4 linked regions of the Homo sapiens genome follow. The protein of the gene in region 1 interacts with the protein of each later gene in a biochemical or structural test. Each region holds a gene or a part of one and is shown in the gene's direction. Other genes may lie near its edges.

The links.
Region 2: the proteins of KHDRBS1 (region 1) and SH3YL1 interact in a test that uses a peptide from one of them, tested with the Homo sapiens proteins (one study listed by BioGRID).
Region 3: the proteins of KHDRBS1 (region 1) and RASA1 form a complex in vitro, tested with the Homo sapiens proteins (2 studies listed by BioGRID).
Region 4: the proteins of KHDRBS1 (region 1) and SH3PXD2A interact in a test that uses a peptide from one of them, tested with the Homo sapiens proteins (one study listed by BioGRID).

Annotation. Positions count from the first base shown.
Region 1 is NC_000001.11:32,037,839-32,044,388, forward strand, and holds the end of KHDRBS1 (KH domain-containing, RNA-binding, signal transduction-associated protein 1), read left to right. Parts: coding exon 1-198; exon of another isoform or gene 199-281; intron 282-713; coding exon 714-781; intron 782-1,676; coding exon 1,677-1,735; intron 1,736-4,688; coding exon 4,689-4,786; 3' UTR 4,787-6,039; downstream 6,040-6,550. UniProt on the Homo sapiens protein: Recruited and tyrosine phosphorylated by several receptor systems, for example the T-cell, leptin and insulin receptors. Once phosphorylated, functions as an adapter protein in signal transduction cascades by binding to SH2 and SH3 domain-containing proteins.
Region 2 is NC_000002.12:260,993-268,274, reverse strand, and holds the start of SH3YL1 (SH3 domain-containing YSC84-like protein 1), read left to right. Parts: upstream 1-4,242; 5' UTR 4,243-4,290; coding exon 4,291-4,291; intron 4,292-5,488; exon of another isoform or gene 5,489-6,074; intron 6,075-7,144; exon of another isoform or gene 7,145-7,282. Other genes in the region: ACP1 (low molecular weight phosphotyrosine protein phosphatase), read right to left, coding at 3,268-3,310.
Region 3 is NC_000005.10:87,389,872-87,392,445, forward strand, and holds the end of RASA1 (ras GTPase-activating protein 1), read left to right. Parts: exon of another isoform or gene 1-928; coding exon 929-1,012; 3' UTR 1,013-2,045; downstream 2,046-2,574. UniProt on the Homo sapiens protein: Inhibitory regulator of the Ras-cyclic AMP pathway. Stimulates the GTPase of normal but not oncogenic Ras p21; this stimulation may be further increased in the presence of NCK1.
Region 4 is NC_000010.11:103,845,539-103,852,578, reverse strand, and holds part of SH3PXD2A (SH3 and PX domain-containing protein 2A), read left to right. Parts: intron 1-7,040. UniProt on the Homo sapiens protein: Adapter protein involved in invadopodia and podosome formation, extracellular matrix degradation and invasiveness of some cancer cells. Binds matrix metalloproteinases (ADAMs), NADPH oxidases (NOXs) and phosphoinositides.

The DNA of each region.
Region 1 (6,550 bases):
CGTGGTGTTGGACCACCTCGGGGGGCTTTGGTACGTGGTACACCAGTAAGGGGAGCCATCACCAGAGGTGCCACTGTGACTCGAGGCGTGCCACCCCCACCTACTGTGAGGGGTGCTCCAGCACCAAGAGCACGGACAGCGGGCATCCAGAGGATACCTTTGCCTCCACCTCCTGCACCAGAAACATATGAAGAATATGTAAGAAATTTGAACAATGTGCCATTTCCCAGTACCTAGAAGGCTGCTAAAGGAAGTTGAATGACAGGGCCTCGGTCCTTTATGTAGGTGTCATGGACTGCCTGTAAGATTTGCAATCTGCCCTCTTCTCTTGCAGTGAATGTTGAACTATTAGAAGATTTTTCCATTTTAGGCAGGGTTTTACTATACGCCTGTAGATTAAACAAGAAATAAAATGTACTTTAATGTAGTATTTTATAATGAATTTCTTACTACTAGTACTGATAATACTAAAGCTCGATTTTGTACTTTACTTCCTGCCCACACTTCTTCTGTGGCATATCATATTTGTTTGGGTTTTCTTTGTTTAGTAACCCTTTCTCTTTTGACTATTCTACAGTAGGCATTAACATTTTGGAGGGAAATGTCATGTCCTTTTAATTCAGAAGCCTACTTACTCCCATGGGATGTAATTACCTTTCCTACTCTCTATGATTTTGATCTTTTATTTCATTTTTTTGTTGTTGTTGTTCTAGGGATATGATGATACATACGCAGAACAAAGTTACGAAGGCTACGAAGGCTATTACAGCCAGAGTCAAGGGTGAGTCAGGCAGTATAAGCACTGTTTTTTGTCCTGAGGATGGATGGAGGGAGTTGGAGGAACAGAGAGATTTAGACAGTACAACCCTAAGGAGCAGAATGGTTCGCCTTTTGAGGGTATCTCCTCTGCAACCCCCACAGTCCTGACTGGTCTTGAACTCTTGAGCTCAAGCAGTCCTCCCACTTTAGCTCTCTCTAGTAGCTGGGGTTACAGGTGCGTGCCACCATGCAATGCTTTCCTCTGCGTTTGACATCTGTGAAGCACACACTTGGATTTGTAAATCTGGATAACTGTGAACCTTAAATTATAATTTAGAACCTGAGAGTAACAAATGAAAAATTTCCAAGCTGTGACTACATGGAAACAAGGAGAAATGCCTTTATGTTATTTTGATTTATTATTTTAAAATATCAAAACCACATTAAAGCTCCATAAAATTTTACAAGAAACTTGAATTCCATTACCATAACTTAGGTTCTTTTCTGCATTTCTCTTTAAGACCATTTCCTTGTGTGTCCATATATATAGCTTACCTGTGAATTGATTGAAAAAGAGTTCCAGAATTCTACAGCAGTGATAAAACAGTTCTTTTTTCCTTCTGGTGAGCCCTATGAATACATGTATATATATGCTATATTAAAAGGGTCAATTTAGGATTGTGCTTTTTCACTTTATATTCTGTGGTATCCATTTTTCTTTGCAATAGTTGTCAATTATTTTATAAGTACATAGTCTATACATATTTTGGAAATACTTTACGGTTTAGGGATGGGGCAGAATGAGTATTTTCCTGTATTAATACACTTAGTAAAATGACTGACTTATGGAAGTATTTGAGAGAAAGTTGAAACATAGTTACTCTGTAGCTTCCTAACACTCTGCCTTTGGCTTTCAGGGACTCAGAATATTATGACTATGGACATGGGGAGGTTCAAGATTCTTATGAAGCTTATGGTATGTCTTTATCTCTGTGGTGGGGCAGAATGTACAAGTAAGTGCCTGGGAGAATGCTGGTGACTAAAGTATTGAGAGTCAGACAAACACACCTACGGATAAACCTTTAGAAGGCCAAGATTTTGCTAGATGTGACAGTAAGAGTTCTGCTCTTGCTTAAATTTTGCGGTACATGGTAGAAAGAGGGACTGCTAAAGTGAGGTGGGGTATCGTTACTCTTGGAAGGGTAGTGTTTGTCTTAAACAAGGGCTCAAGACCAGCTTGGCCCTGGTTGGAGCAGCAGACTTATAAGCTAATGTTATTTTTTTTCTACTTTAGGCAGGGAAATAGCTAGACCTGGGTTGTATTTCTGGGCCTTTGCTGCCGATATCTAGGCCACTTTGGTAGATAACAAGAACTTAATCGTACACAACTGTACTCATCTACCCCATTTCATTAAAAAAAAAATTTAGATCTCATTGAAAAGAATGTCATTGTAAAGGAAATGTCAGCTGAAAGGGACCTAGATGGCAAGCAGCTAGCCAGACCAGGTTGCGGGGCAAGAATAGTGCCTATTAGGGCCGGGCGTGGTGGCTCATGCCTGTAATCCCAACACTTTGCGAGGCCGAGGCAGGCGGATCACCTGTGGTCAGGAGTTCGAGACCAGCCTGGCCAAGATGGTGAAACCCTGTCTCTACTAAAAATACAAAAAAATTAGCCAGGTGTGGTGGTGGGCGCCTTTAATCTCAGCTACTTGGGAGGCTGAGGCATGAGAATCACTTGAACCTGGGAGGCGGAGGTTGCAACGAGCTGAGACCGTGCCATTGCACTCCAGCCTGGGCAACAAAAGTCCGTCTCAAAAAAAAAAAATAGTGCCTATTAGAATCAGATTAGAGGCTGTAGGGGCTAGAGCCAATAATTCAGGACAGTACTGGCACCAAGCTCCTTGTTGGCTTGAAGACATCAACACAGTCCTTGATCCCAAGAGAGCTATGGAGGCTGCAACAGCAGCAGGACAAGGCTGCCTTCCCTGAGGTTTGGTTAAAAACACATCGCTCAAGTGTGTCCTCAAGAGCCAGTTATGGCCCTGTGTTAATAGGCCTCACTGGGAATACTATGTGGCAGTGGATGCAGCGAGAGCTACCTTTTCAGTATAAGGTATTTTCAGCATACCTGAGGGACTTCCAGAGAGTCCTTGGCAGGGGCTCAGCGATTGACAGTTCACGCTAAGATACTGGTTGACAGTCTCCCCTTATCCCTAGCTGAAAAAGAGGAGCCCCTTAGGGCCTCCCAGAGACAGACAAGCTGAGCCCAACTCAGCACAGTATGAAGTAGCCAATCAGCTGCTTGCCCAAGGAAACTGTTTTTACCAGTTTTAGCGAAATAGCACTGGACAGTTGCCAATCACTAACACTGTGTGTGATTGCACCCAAGTATTTCCCTCCATCAGTGAGGCAGTACAGTGGGGCCTCTGTATGTGTTTGACTAAATTGCATTTCTGTTTTGCTGGAGAAAAGACCAAACTGAAAGAGGCAGGCTTCTCTTTGTGCTCCTGATACGACGTTGCCACAGTTAATCCGTTCTGATCTCTGCTTTGATTAACAGAATTAGAGAAATAAACTGTCCAGGATGATCTGTATACGTCAGGAAAAAAAGAAAAAGAAACTGTCTTGTTGATACCCAGAAGCCACTTGGAAAGTGATGGACATGTGTGTTATACTAGGGGTATAATTAGGGTTCTGTGTGACTTTAGATCTGTATAGGAGTTTGAGGCCTATAGAGATGGAGGCAGATACTTGTGAATACAGGCAGCTGGAAAAATACTTCAGGGATGAACTAGCGTGTGTAAGGTGTGGGAAGAATAAATTTAACGCAATTTATTTTCATAAGAGGTCACCTCTAGAATTATGTGATCATATTCCTCAGGCTTTTCCCTGTCACAAAGGAGAACCATTTGAGGATGTGAACCACATTGTCTGGCTTCTGGCTTCTCTCACCTGTTGACTTAAGAAAGGAGATAAGGAATTATCCTTTTTTTTTTTTTTTTTTTTTTTTGAGATGGAGTCTGGCTCTGTTGTCCAGGCTGGAGTGGAGTGGCACAATCTCAGCTCACTGCAACCTCTGCCTCCCAGGTTCAAGCACTTCTCCTGCCTCAGCCTCCTGAGTAGCTGGGATTACAGGCATGCGCCACCACGCCTGGCTAATTTTTGTATTTTTAGTAGAGATGGGGTTTCACCCTGTTGGTCAGGCTGGTCTCGAACTCCTGACCTTGTGATCTGCCTGCCTTGGCCTCCCAAAGTGCTGGGATTACGGGCGTGAGCCACCGCATGCAGCCTTGGAATTATCTTAAACAGTGCTGTCAGTGCAACATTTGATTGCACATCCCTCTACCAGAGAGAGCAGTATCAGCTCTGCTGGTGGAGGGCCCCATGGAAAGTGGCCCTTGCTTGGTTTTCCCAGGGAGCTAGAGGACACTTCTCCGTAAGGAAACGTGACTTGCTGTTGCATGGAAGTGGGGCTGGCTGCCTGCTTCCAATCTGAAAGACTTCCAGAAGTCTTCCCACCTTACCTGAGGGTGCCTGCCAAATTGTTTTGGGAACAGGAAAGGCCATTGCAGACTCACTAAGATTAATGAGTTCCTCACTATCTCAAGCAAGGTGTTGGGTATCTCCAGGTTTGGGGACTGGCGTACAGATCACATTTGTCTATGAAGAACCTCGTTGTGGGAGATTACTCCAGAGTCAATGGCAGCCTTTTTAGATTTGTTCCCTTCTGTCCTTCCACTCAAAACTGAAAAATTGCCCAGGCTGCCCAAGAGGGCCAAGCCAAGTAGAGAGCAAGGAACACCAGGGGAAGTGTCAAGACATTAGAAGAAACTCAGTGTTTTTGGTGATCTTTACTATGTGACCTATCCCTGCTTATCCCTAAGTGCTGTCGCCACATGGTTTATAAACTGTCTTTGTTTTCCCCACAGGCCAGGACGACTGGAATGGGACCAGGCCGTCGCTGAAGGCCCCTCCTGCTAGGCCAGTGAAGGGAGCATACAGAGAGCACCCATATGGACGTTATTAAAAACAAACATGAGGGGAAAATATCAGTTATGAGCAAAGTTGTTACTGATTTCTTGTATCTCCCAGGATTCCTGTTGCTTTACCCACAACAGACAAGTAATTGTCTAAGTGTTTTTCTTCGTGGTCCCCTTCTTCTCCCCACCTTATTCCATTCTTAACTCTGCATTCTGGCTTCTGTATGTAGTATTTTAAAATGAGTTAAAATAGATTTAGGAATATTGAATTAATTTTTTAAGTGTGTAGATGCTTTTTTCTTTGTTGTTTAAATATAAACAGAAGTGTACCTTTTATAATAAAAAAAAGAAGTTGAGTAAAAAAAAAAAACACACAAACCTGTTAGTTTCAAAAATGACATTGCTTGCTTAAAGGTTCTGAAGTAAAGGCTTGTTAAGTTTCTCTTAGTTTTGATTTGAGGCATCCCGTAAAGTTGTAGTTGCAGAATCCCAAACTAGGCTACATTTCAAAATTCAGGGCTGTTTAAGATTTAAAATCACAAACATTAACGGCAGTAGGCACCACCATGTAAAAGTGAGCTCAGACGTCTCTAAAAAATGTTTCCTTTATAAAAGCACATGGCGGTTGAATCTTAAGGTTAAATTTTAATATGAAAGATCCTCATGAATTAAATAGTTGATGCAATTTTTAACGTTAATTGATATAAAAAAAAAAACAACAAAATTAGGCTTGTAAAACTGACTTTTTCATTACGTGGGTTTTGAAATCTAGCCCCAGACATACTGTGTTGAGAGATACTTAGAGGGAGGGAGTAGGTTTTGAAGAGGTTGATGGTGGTGGGGAGGGAAGGCCTCCTGAATTGAGTTTGATGCAGAGCTTTTTAGCCATGAAGAATCTTTCAGTCATAGTACTAATAATTAAATTTTCAGTATTTAAAAAGACAAAGTATTTTGTCCATTTGAGATTCTGCACTCCATGAAAAGTTCACTTGGACGCTGGGGCCAAAAGCTGTTGATTTTCTTAAGTTGACGGTTGTCAATATATCGAACTGTTCCCAAGTTAGTCAAGTATGTCTCAACACTAGCATGATATAAAAAGGGACACTGCAGCTGAATGAAAAAGGAATCAAAATCCACTTTGTACATAAGTTAAAGTCCTAATTGGATTTGTACCGTCCTCCCATTTTGTTCTCGGAAGATTAAATGCTACATGTGTAAGTCTGCCTAAATAGGTAGCTTAAACTTATGTCAAAATGTCTGCAGCAGTTTGTCAATAAAGTTTAGTCCTTTTTTAATCAAAGTAAATGTGATGAATTGTCATTTTTTTGGGTGGACCATAAAATAGTTTTCTCTTTCAAATAAACTTAAATTAACTCTAAAGTTAATGGGCTTGTTAAAAGTTGGAAACATTCTTAAAAGTGGTGGGGGGGATTTTATTTTAAGTTTACCAAAAAAAAGTTGATGGAGTTGTTAAGTTTTAGTTTAAAAATAACCAAAGCTTTTTCACCCCCTGGAAGTTGTTGGAAGCTGTTGTATCCAATCCTATCAAAAATTCTAATTTATGGAGAGTTTTCAACTCAACTGAGCTGAAACTTGGATTGGTTTCCATAGATAGGTCTCAGTATTTAAAAGTGCAAGCCAGCCTGGTTTGCACCTTCTGTAGAACCCCTAGGTGGCTCTAAAGTGTGACACCAAATAATTTCTGTGAGCTCAGAAGGGGACAGCATCTGCCTTTAGGCATGACAGTTCAGCCAACTCTGGGTGCCCTTGAGGGTTTCTCTTTCAATCCCAGAAATGCTGATAACTCAGCT
Region 2 (7,282 bases), on another chromosome or scaffold:
TATATGGCTACCAAGTAAAATGCCATTTACCGCTCAAATTCCCTCAGAATGCAACCAGTAAAGGCATGCTCCACCTCCAGTTTCATCTCAAAACAACAGCTGAAACTCTTCTTTTTTAAACTTAAATTTGATCACTTCCCACCTCTGCTCAAAACCCTCCAATGTTTATTCAGAGTAAGCCCAAGTCTTCACATGGCCTCCCAAGATCTGGACCTAAAACAGGGGTCTGAAAATCGGCTCATGGTCCACTGCCTTTATGTACAGCCCACAGCGGTAAGAATAATTTTTACATTGTTGAGTAGTTGGAAAAAATCTAAAAGTAGAGTACCTTGTGACATGTGAAAATTATACAGAGTTCCATCCAATTCTGATGTCCACAAATGAAGATCCACTAGAACACAGCCAGGTTCATCATATGGATGGCTACTTTGTGCTACACCCTTTCTGTATGTCATGTGAAGCCAATCTAAAATAATTATAATCTGGTTCTTTAAACAAAGAGTTTGCAGACTCCTGCCCTAAAGGACCAGTGTATATAAGGAATTAACTTCTCCCTATACATCTACAATGGAAGCACTGAGAAAACAGGCGCTCAAATTATCTGCTAAATTTTCAGGTATAGATGAGGAATCCTGACTGAGAAAAACTATCTGGCCACTAGGCCCAGCCACTGCAGCTTCCCTGCGGTTCATGACCATGGCCAGTATTCTCCCTTCAAAACTTTTACCTGCTTTCCTCTGGGTTCAGGATGCTTCTCCAAAATATCCTAGGCTTGCTTCCTCACCTCCTTCAAGTCTTTACTCAAAAGTCATCTATCAGGTGGGGCCTTCCCTGACCATCCCACTCAAAACTGCACTCCACTCCCATTCCCCTTTTCTGCTCTATTTTTCTTAATCTTCACATCAACCGATTGAGCACATCAATTAATACTTGCTGGTGACTGAGAGAACGTGAGCTCCAGAGAGGCTGGGATTTTTGTCTGTTGTGTTCACCACACCACTTAGAGGAATGCATGCCATATAGTAGATGCTCAACAACAACAAAAAATCACTGAATTGTATTGAAATACAATAGTCCCCTCTTTTCCAAGGTTTTGCTTTCCATGGTTACCCCATGGTCAGCTTCAGTTGGAAAATATTAAATGAAGAATTCCACAAATAATTCCTAAGTTTTAAATTGTGCACTGTTCTGAGTAGCAGGATAAATTCTCATGCCATCCCATTCCGTCCTGCCCCAGAAGTGAAACACGTCTTTGTCCAGCATATCCATGCTGTCTATCCACCTATTGCCCTCTAGCTTATCAGATCCATTGTGATGCTATCACAGTGCCTGAGTTCGAGTCACCCTTAGTTTACTAATAATGGCCCGAAATCATAAGAGTAGTGAAGCTAGCAATTCAGATACGGCAAAGAGAAGCCATAAGCACTACCCTTAAGTAAAAAGGTGAAAGTTTTTGACTTCTTATGGAAAGAAAAAAAAAACTTATACCGAGGTTACTAAGATCTACAGTACGAACAAATCTTCTATCCATGAAAATGTAAACAAGGAAAAAGAAATTCCTGATCGTCTGCTGTCTTGCCTCAAACTGCAAAAGTTGCGACCACAGTTTTAAATGCTTAGTTAAGGTGGCAACGGTATTACATTTGTGGGTGTAAGAAACGAGCAGACACATGTTCCAATTGACAGCAATTGGGTTTGGTACTACCCACAGTTTCGGGATCCACTGGGGAGTCTTGGAATGTATCCCCTACAGCTAAAGTGGGACTACTGTATATGCAAGGATACACTTCCCCATTAACAGCAACCATGATGCATTATGCCAGCATAATCGACAATACCAACCAAAACTATACAAGGGAATGGAATATTATTTAGTAACCATCCTTAACCAAACTACTGTTTAATAAACTTATTGATTTCATCATTCAGCCTTCAATGAGTCTTAAAAATCAAATGATGCCCACTACCAATGTGAAACAAGGTAAGCCTTCTAATTCGTCTTTCACAGAAGTTAACTTCTACAAAACCTAGTCAGCGTTTATCATATATTGTCCTAAAGCTGAAAACAAAATGAAAAATAAGCCACAGTTATTGCCATCGACAAAATTAAACTCAGCTGGGATTTCAACAGACTATCAAATAATTATAGTAAAATTTGTGTAATAAAAGATGTCGATAAGGAATCACACCTTTTCTGTATTACATCTTTTACTATATTACACAAATTATAGTAAAATTTGTGTAATAAAAGATGTCGATAAGGAAGCAACTCATGATCTGGGAAAGCAAAGGAGGAAATATTTAGGTTTGACTTTATAAAATAAAAAGGCTTTCCAGGCAAAATGCATAATGGGCACCCAGCGATGAAGGCTCAGTAAGCATGTGAAGTGCTACCGAACAACGAAAGGTTCTGGAAGGCAGTGTCCCGAGGGTGTGAGCAGGAAAAGGTACAGGAGATAAAGTGAGGAGTCTGTAAAAATAAACAGAAACTGCAGGAAATGCAAACTCACAGAAGGTTTTAAGTAACCGGACTACTGACAATTTAGGCCTTCCTCTCAGGGTGGAGGCACCGAGGAATATAACCTTGTAGTGCTACACCAAAGGAAGATCCCTGAAGACCAAACGGAAAATAAATTATGTTTGAAGTAAGGCAAGCTAAGTGTTGAAATTCTAGGAGTGAAAATAATTTAAGCTGGAAAGTTCCTGAAAAGCCATTAATAAAATACACTTTCATTTTTCATGGGCCAAAGTTATATAGGGACCTCCAGGTCTCCTTTGCTTGGCTTTTACAATCAAGAAACCCGAAACCGTAAAACTTCATCTCCCTTTAACTCAGATCCCTATCTAAGCATGGGCTAAGGAAACTAGCAAACAAAACAATGTTGTCATAGGACTCAGGAGGCCCCTAAGAGACCACATCAGTCCGACAACCTCCAGGCCTACCTGGGCCCATTGGAGGGGAACGAGAGGGATTCTAGTAGTCGCAAAGAAAGTACCTTGGCTTGTAGGGGCTGTGGCTGCAGATGCCAAGAGCCCCGGATATATGGCAGGCGCGAGGGGACCCAGGTTTAGCGGGCAGGCTGGGCGGGTGCACGGGGCGGATGGGGAACAGGGGCGCTGCGGCACACTCCTAGAACACCCTAGGCCTCCCAGTCCCTGGCCTCCTCCCCCTCATGGTTCCTAGGCCGGCGGCACAACCTACAGCGCACAAGCCCGATCCAACTCTCCAGAGGACGTCAGAACATGAGTAAGTCGGCGCCCTCTTACCCAGACACACAAACAGCACGGACTTGGTAGCCTGTTCCGCCATCTTCCCGCGCGCAGAGGCGCCGAGACACCGCGGCGTTCCGCACGCCGACGCGGCGCAGGCGCACTGCCACCCTCTTGCCCCGCGCGCCTGCGCAGTCCCGCACCAACGCCAACAGGGCAGCGCGTGTGAGAGCCACGCCTGCGCAATCGGCTCCAGTGCGCCTGCGGAGGCGGTCCTATGACGGTAGTAGGACGGGCGGGGAGGGTCCGCGGGTCACCTGCAGGGACTGGGCCGCCGTTCACCTGCAGGGGCGGGGCTGCAGGTTGTCCGGAGGAGGAGGAGCTGCGGGGGTGGGGTCACCTGGAGGGAGTAGGGCCGCGGAAGGCGAGGGGGTGTGTGTGTGTGGTGGCGGGGGTTGGCGGGGGGGAGTCACCTGGAGGGGGCGGGGCTGCGGGTCGCTTGGAGGGGAAGGAGCCGCGGGAGGTAAAGGTTACCTATAGGGGACGGGGCCGCAGGAGAGGGGTACCTGGAGGAGGAAGGGCCGCGGGTCACCTGCAGGGCGGGCTCAGGCCTCGCGGCTCCGCGGGCCGCCCACCTGGGTTGGGGCACAGCGCGAGTCTCGCGCACGTGGCGGGCTGTGGTGCCTGTCGTTCGAGTTCGCATAGAGGGGCTGGGCGGGTCACGCGGGGAACCTGCCTTGAGCCCCGCGGGGTCCACGCCGGACCAGGGCGGCCTTGGGCCTGGGCGCTCCCTGAGACCCCCACCCCCAACACCGTGCTTGGAGCCGCCGCGGGGCTCTGGGCTTTTCGATCTTGAGGACGGGGCGGTTCCGAAGTCCCTGAGGGCGAAGGCCTGAGCGCGGCCCGGCGGGCGCGTGGTTTTTGTCCCGCGAAACGTACACGGCGGGTGTTTTGCGCCGCCTCCTTCGTCACCTGCCGCAGGTACGCCCTCGCTGGGGCCTCCTTGTCCGCGGGGCGGGGCAGCGCGCCTTCCTCTTCCTGGGCAGCCTCGGGACGGGGCGCCGCGGCCGGGCGGGCAGCAGTGAGTACCCGGGGACCCACCTGTCCGGCAGCACCCTCCCCTCTCAAGAGCTGGGCGGTGGTGGGAGGAGGAGGACGGGAAAACCGGCGATGCCTCTGGGGTTTCTAGGTCGCGCGTCTGTTAACCGCAAACCGCCCAAAGTTAAGATAGAGCAGCTTCCAGGACTTTCTTGACCACAGCGATTTTGATTGAAGTTTAGCCACCGTCTTTTCCATTTTTAGAAAAGCTATTCCGAAGTTTGGAATGATGACGATGGTCGTGTTATTTTTAACTTCCTGATATTTGAACGGCGAGGTGTCAGCGACCATCCTTCCGTTCCACAGAAGCGTCTCTGAAGTTTGGGTCGAATGCGCGCGCTTGGAATGTGCGTGGAACCCGCGGCAGGCGCGGGGAGGAGGCCTTGGCTAGGGCGCCGGCGAGGTTCGAGTTTGCCAGCCCCCCAACCTGGAAGAGAAGGGCCAGCCCCTCACACCCGGAAGGGAAGGGCCGGTCCCCCCAACACCTGGCGCCGGGGTCGCGGGGCCACAGGGCGAGCGCGGGGTCGCGGCGAGCACGGGTCCTCTCTGATCGCTGGGCCTTGGCGCTGGCTGCTGAGTTTTTCCTTCTTTAAGGAAGTGTGGAACTGGTCTCAATCGGTTGACCACCTTAAGGAAATAGGATTTACACTGTGGACAGAGATGTGTCCTTTACACTTCATTTGAACCAATATGCCCATGCTCCTGTGGAGGCTGAGTTGGAAAGTGACACGAAGCTGCCCCCCCGCAAGAGAGCAGGTGCTCGGTTTCTCTTCTGCTTACAGGAGATGCATGTCCTGATTTCTTGTTCTCCTAGGTGTTTTTATTGAGATGTAGGGAATATCTGAATTCATAACGACTTAGAAAATCTGTACACACAGTTGAGAGAACAGGTCTCGAGGCTAAGGTGCTGTTTACTCCCGTGGGCTGGCCTGTTATTAAAATACTTGTGCAGCGACTGATGTTTACAAATTACTATGTTGGAGGTTAAAATGATCAAAGTGATAACCTCCATCCTGTCTATCATGTTTGAGGAGAATTGGTTATTTGGTTCACTAATGTTCTGTTTAAAGAAAATTTCTGTAAAACTAGTAAATGTTACCCCTCATCTTTTGTAAGTTAAAAAAAAGTTTAAAATAATGTTTGCTCATCAAAAGTGATTTGATACTTTTGTTCTGTTTAGGAAAACTTTATTCTCAAGAGATTTCTCATTCCGCAGAAATAAGGATCTGGCATGTCAACACAAACATAGGAAGTTGAGGCAGTCAAAGGGAAATAACTGCTACCCTGACTCTGCTGAGAGCCTCACAAGTCCCTGTGCACGCCAGCTTGTTTGCCAGTGAGTGGCGTCATGATAAGACAAAATTCTCTGCTCTGAGACCTAAGCACATGAAGTTTTTAAAAAAATTTTCTCTGAGAAGATCCCATTTTTTACTCTAAAAGATCAGACCAGTGTGGCATGTGTGGAACTGCTCTGTACCAAGATCACACTCTTCAGTTGGAGAAGAGGAAGGGCAGGAATAAATAAAGGGCTTTCCTGTCTCCCGAGGGAGCAGAGAAAGCTTTCGCTGTCCTCTTCCTTCCCCAGCCACAGCCTGGGGTTGGGGGACTGGAAACAAGCTCAGGCTAGCACTTGATGTTCAGACGGTAGTCTGAAAGTTTGACTAGGGAGTTAATGATCTGACCAGAGAGACAGGTTTTTATTTTGAGAACTGACAAGCTTTGTGTCCTTAAAACAAAGGAAGTAGTTAAACCAAGGCCCCAGAAAGGTAAGAATTGACTTAAGAAACAAAGGCCATAGTTGTCAAGCAGTGGAGTTCAAAATGCAGTTTTGTTAATAAAAGTAGCTTAAAGCAACATTTGAAAGCCTCTCTAAAGATTAGATACATACACTTTCTTTTGGCTAAGATTTCTTTAGTTTATTCTAAATATACCTTTAGCAGCATTCAAGTTCCTTTGATCTTAGATGGAATTTTATCAGTTTAATGAGTTAACCTCCATTTCACATAAAGTATAAGGTTTAATAATTTGATTAATATGTAATCAGTAAGAACTTGGAAAACCAAATTTAGTAAGCTTGCTTTCCTGTAAGTATTCCTTTCATAATTAGAGTCCATTGAAGAAAATAATATAAGGGAAGCAAAAGTTTGGGAATCTGAACTCTGGTAAGGAAAGTGGTGGAGAGGGGCCCTTGGGTCTTCTTGCTTTCATTCCTGACCCTCCGTGTACAACTAGATTGGAAACCGTAGTCAGCTTTGTCACCTCAGGTGGCAATTTACTCCGAGTAGGATTCTCATGTCCCTGTTTGTCCCCAGTGACTCTAGCATTGAGTTTATAGAACTGCGATCAATACCTAAAATTATTTCCAGATCTTAAGCTGATTTATGCTTTTGAGGTTTCCAAAGTAAAAATTGTCTTTCCGGTATTTTATAAGACCTTCTAATTTAAAAAAAAAATGTGTTACTATGAAAATTTAAAACATTTTAACTTTTGTTTTAAAGAAAACTTTATTTGAAAGTTTCTTAGCTTGAGGTTTGGCAGCCACTCTTTTTTTAGAAAAAACTTAAATATTTATAGAGATTTTGCCTGATTCAAGGGACTTAAGACGTTTATGAGAGTGCAGATGCTAACCATGATGTGAGGTTTAAGAGGCTTCATTAGTAATGACCTGTGTCTTCATCAGTATGATAGAATGGGACATCAGCACTCTGATCAGGTCATGCTCTATATGCCTTATGGTACAGCAGAGGAAAAATGGGTGAGCCATCATTTGATGCTGAGGATGGGATTTGAGGCTTATGTCTAAATTTTTATTTGCATATTCTTTTTGTTCTGACAGAGAAATTCACTGCATGTAACTATGACCACGCATGATTTTATCAGAAGTTGATTAGAATCTGTAACATTTTCTGTAGTTCAGCTGACACACTGAAGATGTCCTCACTGTGACCAGCCTTGTCAACAGCTGGATCACAGT
Region 3 (2,574 bases), on another chromosome or scaffold:
ACATACAGATATAGTGCATGGCCAAAGTGATTCTCAAACTGTGAAACAAATGATTATTATTTGGGATGTTTGTCAAATTTCACATCCAGAGGTTCTGAAGTGTGGCCTTGAAAGCTGCACGTCTAACAAACTCTTAGAGGAATTTATAGGTATTCCGATGCAAGTGAACCATGGCCTACACTTTGAGAAACAGTAGACTACATTGATAGACTTCTATCTGCCATCTGCACCAAACAGATACAGATAAGGATGTATTCAAAGACCAGACCAGAATTTGAAGGGACTTAATACCAGGTCAATTAAGATATTGGAGATATAGAACAAAATGAGTTACACTTTGAATGTCCTCAGCTGACATAAGGGCTACTGAGAGGAAGTGACCACAGGGACAGTTTTGACTAGTTTCTAATGTAGTTTCAGGAGATAGTGAATGCTGTCACCGCACTGGCTAACCATTTGGCAGGGATTTTGTAGAAGGGATTAAAGCATTGAGTTTGGTGACTGAGTTCTCTACAACCTGAGATTCTAGAATCCTCAAGTCCTGTTTCTCCCCGCCCCTCCCCCCGCAGCTTTCAAAACTAATAATATGACTTGACTTGCCTTAGATATTAAATAAAAAAAGCCTTTTTTAAAAGAGAGATAAACTGCTTCTGACAACATGTGATAGTGTGATAGTTCTGGCCTAAAAAATAGGAGCATGCCAAACACAAACAAATTTCTGTTCACTTTAGGGTATAAAAATTCTCTTAGTTATGACCAGAAATACTCAGCCAATGACTGAATAATAGAGACTTATGTTTTGAGGGGAATTGTGGTAATATTTTATGCATCCTTTTGCTTTGATACAGTTTTTTTCAAATCCAGGTTCCCATCCTGAAATTGCTGACCGAGCTTTCATTTATTTTCATACCATTTTTCCTCTGTCTAGCACGTATTGAAAAAGCTTCTGGCTATAACAGAACTGCTTCAACAAAAACAAAACCAGTATACAAAAACCAATGATGTCAGGTAGCAGCCTTCGCCCCAGTGTTCTGCATGGATTCAGCATGTCCAACATGGTAATTCACTTCAGTTTAATGTCTCCTTTGCTCTTGCCAAAAAATAGCACACTTTTCCACATTCCAGTGATGTGTGAGCTATGCAAACAAAATCCAAGATTCTGCTGGTGAATAACTATGCCAGCAACCTTGTAAGCTATCTGTGCAGGATATTTGCACTATTTCCACATGGAATCAATCTTTAACAACCTCTGAGCCTTGGTGTACAGACCACCTTTCACAAAACGAAATGCTATGACTGTATCTTGATATCTCGAACTTTCAAAATATATTTTCAGTACACCCAGTTGCCAAAGTTTTGCTGTCTCTTAGAGAAAGAACTATGAAATCAACTGACAAGAAACACATTCTTATTGACAATTGTGTATAACTGGATTGCAGACTGTTCTTACTGTAACTACTTCCTGATTAGGAATATGACCATTTGACTGTTCAATGATTATTTGTATTTACAGTTTCCAGAGTTTGTCATTATAATAGGAACAATCTTTGCTGTATACTTTTAAAAAATACTCTGCTATTTCTCTTGCTGGAACTGTTGAAAGAAAATATATAGAATGATCTATTGCTCATCAGCTTTATTTTTTAAACATACGACTTATTTTGTTGAAATTGTCAAAGACTGTATTTAGATCTCATAATGCTTTGTTAAATGTTTACAAGTAAATAGTTTGAATTCAGTAAATATTATTGGTTGTTGTATTGATCAATGCATGTTACCCATTCAACCATTTTATAGACTACCAATTTCTTTTATGTTAACTAGAATGCTTTTGTTAAAAGTTATTTGTTCATTATTTGTGCTACCCCTTTGATTATGCAGACAACCTCATCAGCTGCCTAACTTATCCATCTTTGAACTTCTGACTACTTGTTGTATCTGCTGGATATTTAGTTCAACTGTATAGTTTTATTTACTTCTGTATGTGTATTTTTGTGAAGTATTCACAAAGGTTAAGTTAAAATAAAACCAAGGGATATCTTGCATAATTGATTACTTCTGTCTAAAAGAGCTAAGCATTTAATTTATTTATTTTCTTCCTCCTTCAGGGGCAGTTTAAACCTTAGCATCAGAGCAAGGCCCAGGGAGAAGCTGAAGCTTTAGATTAGTATTTTTGCTAATGGCCTCTTTTGAAAAGGATTTTATAAATGCAATAATTCCTTCCCTCTCATAATTGTGCAGGGCAGATAGATAGGACATATGGAACATACGTGGCAGAATGACATTGGTAATCAAAGTGAGTGAGACAGGAACCCAAGGAGGTGTTCCCACAGTAAGGAAAGCCCTAGATTCCAAGAGCAACACTTTATGCTATTCCTCTAATGTATAAAATACAGGAAAAAAAAATGCTAAGGGCTTAAAAGATGTCTGCTTAGTAGTTCCAAGCTACAAAAGGCAGTTATTTCTATGGGGGCTGCTAACCTATGTGGCTTCAATCACCGTTTAACACTGATACCAAAAATCTCAACATGTCCCATGCTCCTTTTCCTTGAAATCAGCTCAATTCATTCCATT
Region 4 (7,040 bases), on another chromosome or scaffold:
TTGCCTGTGTTCTGGAAACCCTCTACACTGGAGGAGCAAGCCTCCTTCCAGCCTTTCCTCTGCTGATGGTGAATTCTGAGTCTGTGGTTTGGTAAATTGCAGAGCAGAGAGGTTTTACGGGATGTGCGTGTTAGCCAGAGCTAGCCGATGAGAGGCCTGGGGCCCACGCAGGAGGAGCTCTGCTGGCTCCAGAGTGCTGGGAACACACTGCAAAGGTTCTCTCAGGACATTCTGCAAAGGGTTTGCTCATCCCCACGGGGAGGGGGAGCTGCCTGAACACGAAGGGTCCTGTGCTTTCGGTCAGTTCATGAAGGCACGCAAGTAGCTTCCATCATGGGGATGGCACTCAGCCCTGGCTTCCTTCTTCTCTGCCAGGCCCCTGCTTGGGGTGGGGTTGAGAAGGGCAGGCAGCTGCTACTAAGGTCAGGCTCCCTGGCATGAAGCTAGGCTCCTTTCCTGGCTTTCTGAGCTGTGCCTGGGGAGACCCTAGGTAAACTGGCTTTGGCCTCTGACCGCTTGTCTTGAAAATGGTCCTGATGATGCTGGATGCAGAATGCAGATTCCTTCGTTTGAAAGTTTTTCAGTAAAGATTTGAATTCAGGTCCACCGGGTTCTTTGTGCTCACAGGCAGGTATAGGTATATATCAATTCATGTGGTAGAGAAAAGCTCGTTTATCTAAAACAAACAAGAAATTGTATCTATTTGGATTTGGGAGGTATTGCACTTTCACAGTTGTTTTATTTCCTGATTGTTTATTTCAGACAAATACCAATCATGAATGTTCTGATCCTCTGCAGGACTCTTTGGGGAATGCAAATAATAGCCAGTTTAGCAGTTACCATCGATGGTGAAACATACTTAACACTCGTGTTTTCGTGTGATTCCTGCAGGTCATTGAATGTACCCTAATGTGGGGTAGGTTTTTGGATTCTGTTTTACAGATGAATTAACTGCAACTTGGAGCAATTCACCAACTTGCTTAGGGTCTCGCAGCTGGCACAGGGCAGAGCTAGGGCAATGCAGGTCAGGTTAGCTCCAAAGGAGGATGTGGATATAAGGTGGGGCCCTTCTCTTCAATTAGAATCCGGGCAGGAAGGCCAGGCTCAGCCCTGTTCCATGGTGACAGAGCAGTACAGGGTTGTCTTTAGGACTGCCTCACTGTAGAGACATCTACCATGTGCCCTGCAGGTGAGTTCATGGTGGGCAACGCAGGCGGGTCACTGTGAGGCAGGAGGAGTAGAGCAACTTCAGGCTGGTATCTGGTCCCCAGTAATGCTTAGGGTAATAAATTAAGGGTTGACCTTGTGGACATAATATATTCTTCCTCTGTTTAGATCATCCCAGATTTTATTCTTGGTCCTGGGAGCTACATGCTTAGGAATTGGCCCCAAACTCATTCATTTCTGTGCCCTTCTTTTTTTTTTTTTTTCTCAGCCCTTAGATTGTGACTCCAGCCCCACAGGAATGAGAATGTGCAGCCACAGCCTGCAAGGGTCTTTTTCAGGGCCAGTTCCATTATGGAATGAGTATGGTGTTGGGCAGATCAGTGCTTGAATCCTACCTGTGGCACTTCCTAGTTGTGCAACCTTGGGCTGTCACTCTGAGCCTCAGTCTCCTCACCTGTAACTTCACAGGGCTCTTGGGAAGTTGGCCTGAGATAATTTGGGGTAGTGTCTACCCAGTGCCTGACCTCACCATGGACATGCACCATATACTAGTTGCCATCTGCTGTTCCTGATCACCAAGGCACTGCAGGTGATTTAGGACCCAATCGGTCAATCTGAGAGAAAAGGAAAGACTGAGGCAAGAAGGACGGCCCAGCTTTTCACAGTCTGATGGGGAAGTGGGTTACACGCCCCATGGAAAACACCCAGCCTCCAAGAGGAACAGATAAACACAGAGCAGCTGTTCAGACCTGGAGGGGTTCCTGGAGCTGAGCATTGGGATCTGGTGGTGGCTTTCTGGTAAGCTGGGAAGAAACAGAGGTTAGGAGAGAAGGAAAGAGGTTGCTCTGGGTAAGGGCAAGGTCAAATAGGATCCTAGCCCCAAGGTCAGCACCACACATGGGTTAACACTCTTGCCTGCTCTCTCTGTCCCTCTGTCTCTCTTACACATGCACAAGCATGGGAACGGTTTCTTCTCTGGGGAGGGAAGTGATCGAGGGGTGATTCACGGGTCTGACAAGGCTCCCTGCTCATGGAACAACCAACCACACCCTTCAAGGCTGTTGGAACAGGGAGCACAGCCAGCCATTTATCGCAACCCTGTGTTGAGCTGAGTGAGGGCTTTTGGGGGGCAAACCAGGGTAGAAATTACCATGTGTGGTGGCAGGCAGAGGGGAAGGGAAGAGAAGGGAAAAATAAACCTATTTGATGTCAGAGGAGACCGATTCCAGCCCAGAAATACAAGCCCCAGCTGCTGCATTTTCCAAAGAGATATTCCGGGGCCAGCATGAGTTAACTGACCGTGGAGGCTATGAATTAGGGAAGTGTTGTTAGGACTTCTGACTTTGGGTTTGCACAGCAGTTCCCTGTAAATTGCCTTCTAATTGCCTCAGCCTGAGTCACTGACCAGACTATTTCTTGGCCAGAAAAAGTCTAATGGGCAACTGTGTTCTCTTTTACCTCTTAATTAAACAAAATGAAACAAATAATAGAGTTATACACATGGTAGTCCCACTTACTCCTCTCGAGTTCTGAGAATCCAGGAAAGGGATAGTAGATTAGGATAGGGACCCAGGGGACAGGAAGGACAAGGGGTGTGTGTGGGAAATGAGGTGGAGATTCTGGCTTTGGAAATAGGTTCTGAGTGAGGGCCAGAGGTGTTCTCTGCCATGACAATTGCCAAAAATAATGGAAGCGCCCAATAGAGTGATCAGGGCTTCCAGAGGCGGATTCCCAGAGCAGCGTGCTACTTCCTGCCTGGCCCGGGCTTCTGCTGCCTGTAGTGCAGCCAGTCACAGGTGGGCAGGTGAATGGAAGGTCAGGAGCCTAGCTGTGAAGGGGATGGGGGTCACATGAGGATCCCTCTTGTGCCTCTGGGTAACCCCCAGGCAAGTCACCATATCAGCCGCAGAGACTGAGCCCCTGCTGTGTGCATGGTGCCGGTCAGAGTCCAGCAAGGCTGTCCAGACCCCATAAGAAGGGGGAGAACTAACATACAAGCACCTACTATGTGCCAGGCAATGCAGAAGATGCCTTTAGAGGCGATTTTACTTGAACCTCATAACAACCCCATGCGGTTAGGTAGGTGTTTTTATTCCCATTTTATAGATGGGGAAATTGAAGCTCGGAGGGTTCGTATCATTCTACTCAGAGTAATTCTGTGGCAGGGCTGGGATTCTCACCCTGGTCTCTGACACCCACATCTGTGAGTGCCACTTCTTCCCCATCAGAGCTGGCTTGGTGAGAGAGAAAATAACCAGTGAGTCCAGGCAGCACCACCTGGGGATGAGGGGTGCACCTGGGAGGCTGTGTTGTCCCAGAGCACCTGTGTGCCGTATCCCTTGGCTGAGCATTGGGATATCCTGGCCCCACCACTCGCTGCCGTGGGATACAGTGCAAGTTACTTATGTCTCTGAGCCTCAGTTTCCTCATCAGTAAAAAAAAAAAAAAAAAAAAAAAAAAAAAGAATATATGGGGAAAGTTGGACCTAGCTCTTAGGGTTATGATGAAGATGAAATGAGTTTGTAATTGTAAAGAGCTTAGACCGGTACCTGGCGCCTTATGGAGCTCAGCATAAGTATTTGCTTTCACAATCACTAAGTCCTGAAGCTGTTCAGAGGAGGGAGAGCACTCTGTGAACTGGAGTTTCCAGGGAAGACCGACTGGAGAAGGCAGCTTCATGATGGACCTTGAGGTGTAATTAGGATTTGGCTGGGAAAGAGTAGGATTTAGATGGGAAAACTGGGGAAGGGCATTCCAAGAAAGAGAAAAGCAAAGGTGCTGGAGGTGGAACGTGCAAGGAAAAGCTGGGCAAAGCCGAGGGTGGATGAGGGAGAGAAGGATGACAGGAAAGCTCAGGGCCAGCTCTGAGAGGCTCCGATGGCAGCAGAGGGAATTCAGTTTATTCTGTAGACACCTTGGAACCTTCCTTTTCTCCCAAGGGCTTGGCAGGGAGAGGGAGCTAAATAGTCACTTTGAGGTCCTCCCGGTGGGCTCCAGCGCTGTTTTTGCGACTGTGCCTGGAACAGAGCTAAGTAAGGACTGGAACCTTTTTCTAGCTCTGCCTGGGGGACTCTTTAGTTGGCCAGCTGGGTCCCACCCCTCCTGTTTACAGCTCTCACTCCTAGGGGTCTGGCTTCCCCATAAAAAGTTGATTGCACCCAGGCTCCTGGGGAGGAAGGGTTGAGGAGGAGGAGGAGGAGGAGAGGGAGCAGCAGGAAGTGAGGTGTCAGCTGCTTTGGGTCTTAACTAGCTTGGGAGGGCCTGATGCAGCAGCGTTTCAGGTGGAGTAATTTCCATCCACACTCCCCCAGTGGCAAGAGCGAGAATGCGCCCATCCTCGTAGGTTCTGGGGGCCAATACCTCACAGTCTGAGGGGAGCCCAGCATGTCTGTGTCTTCTGAACCATCTACACTAATGTTGCCTTCTACTTCAGGATCTCTCTGAACTTGTTTTAGTTGGTTTTTTTTTTTTTTGAGTTGGGGTCTCGCTCTGTCACCCAGGCTGGAGTGCAGTGGTGCGATCTCGGTTCACTGCAGCCTCCGCCTCCCGGGTTCAAGCGATTCTCGTGCCTTAGCCTCCCAAGTAGCTGGGATTACAGGCATGCACCACCACACGCAGCTAATTTTTGTATTCTTAGTAGAGGTGGGGTTTTGCCATGTTGGCCAGGCTGGTCTCGAACTCCTGACCTCAGGTGATCCACTCGCCTCAGCCTCCCAAAGTGCTGGGATTACAAGTGTGACCCGCTGCGCCTGGCCTGAACTTGTTTTAGTTTTAAATGCAGTGCTTCAGCTGGGCATGGTGGCTCATGACTGTAATCCCAGTGCTTCAAAAGGCCAAAGTGGGGAGGATCACCTGAGGCCAGGAGCTCAGACCAGCCTGGACAATGTAGCAAGACCCCATCTCTACAAAAAAATTAAAAAATAAGCCAGAATAAGCCAGGTGTGGAGGCATGCGCCTGTAGTTCCAGTTACTCAGTCGGCTGAGATGGGAGGATGGCTGGAGCCCAGGAGGTTGAGCCTGCAGTAAACCGTGATCACACCACTGCACTCCAGCCTGGGTGACAGAGTGAGACCCTGTCTCAAAAAAAAAAAAAATTCTAAAAAGCTAGGCATCGTGATGAACACCTGTAGTCTAGCTACCCGGGAGGCTGAAGTGGGAAGATCACTTGAGCCCAGGAATTGGAGGCTGCAGTGAGCTATGATTATGCCACTGCATTCCAGCCTCGGCAACAGCAAGACCCTGTCTCTAAAAACAAATAAGTAAATGCAATGCTTCAAACTACCTCTTCATTTATTTGACCTCTACCACACTCCCAGATAGTCTAGTAAACCTTATTCTTAGGGAAAATGTAACAATAAAAATAACAGCTGACCTTTCTAAATGTTTTCTATGTGCTAAGCATCTCATATGGATGTTCTCAGAACAGCCCCACGCAGCATGTAGCTCCCACCAGCATCCATACTGTACAGGTGACAGCACAAAGGCTCAGAGAGCTCAAATGAATTGCCAGATGCCACGCAGCTGATGAGCTGCATGTGGAGAGGCCTGCACTGACCCAGGTCTGCTGGCTCCAAAGCCTGCCCTGTCCCCACAGAGACCGCTTAATGACACATTACACACCCAGGATGCCTGGGCTCCATGGTTCCACCTTAGGCCTAGTTGGTTGGCTCCTCAAGCCGTGAGATCTTCCACATGTCACCTCCCCCTTCTAGAACTACATTTGCCCATCTAGAAAATGGTGCAACTGTTTCTTTTCAGGCTTGCCTTGCAGAGCGGAGGGCAGGTATAACAGCTGCTTTGGAAAGCACTGAGCCCAGAGATGATAGCTGTGTGAGGAGGTCCCTTGATCCCCCAGTCTGGGTTCTTAATTATCTAGGGCAGGGATGCTATACAAAGTGAGTTGTTCCTGACCCCAGGGAATTTTTAAACAAGGTTCACCTGCCCAGCCACCTCTCCTGAGAAGCCTCATAGACAGAGTCGACTCAGGAGTACTTAGGCTCTTAGTGAAGATCTCTTCTAGAAAACGGCCTCTGGTTTTCCTTCTTTCCAAACCAATCATTTTTTTGTGAACAGGAAAAGACAGAGTTATTCCCAGTCCCATCTCTCCCTGCTGTTACCTGAGCGGAGGAAGTGATATCTAAGTGGCTGAGTTAGCAAAGGGGAAACAGCTGTGGTTTCTGCCACTCCACTGGGCTGCTTTCTCTGTCCCTGTGCTGTCATTTCCCTTTGGCTGGCGAGGAAGCCACCCTCCCCAAGCCTGGGCGGAGGCCCATGGCTGGGTCGGGGTAGACTCTGTGTGTGTGTGTCAATGCAGCATAAATTATGCAGTGGGGCGGGTGGGACAATTTAGCCTGTTTCTGGGATCCCTGGAGCATGAACTTTAGACCTGTTGGAAACTGATCACTCTTACCTGATCTGACCACAACTTCAGGGAGTCAGGAATGGAAGTAATGCCCCATGTTGAGAATGAACTTGCAGGGTGTACCAGGTGGGGTAGGGATTGATGGAGTGTGGGCTGGTTTGCACTTTTGCCTATCACTGTGTGGTCCCTGATGGAGAACCTACGTTGTTTTCCTTTTTTGAGGCGTACTCTCACTAAAGGAGACCTTGGCACGTATTGTATCACCATCATCATCATAGAGCTGTTACAGGAAAGGGGTCCCGATCCAGACCCCCAGAGAGGGTTCTTGGATCTCCAGCAAGAAAGAATTCAGGGCAAGTCCATAGAGTAAAGTGAAGGCAAGTTTATTAAGAAAGTAAAGGAATAAAAGAATGGCTGCTCCATAGACAGAGCAGCCCCGAGGGCCACTGGTTACCCATTTTTATGGTTATTTCCTGATGATATGCTAAACCAGGGGTGTATTATTCATGCT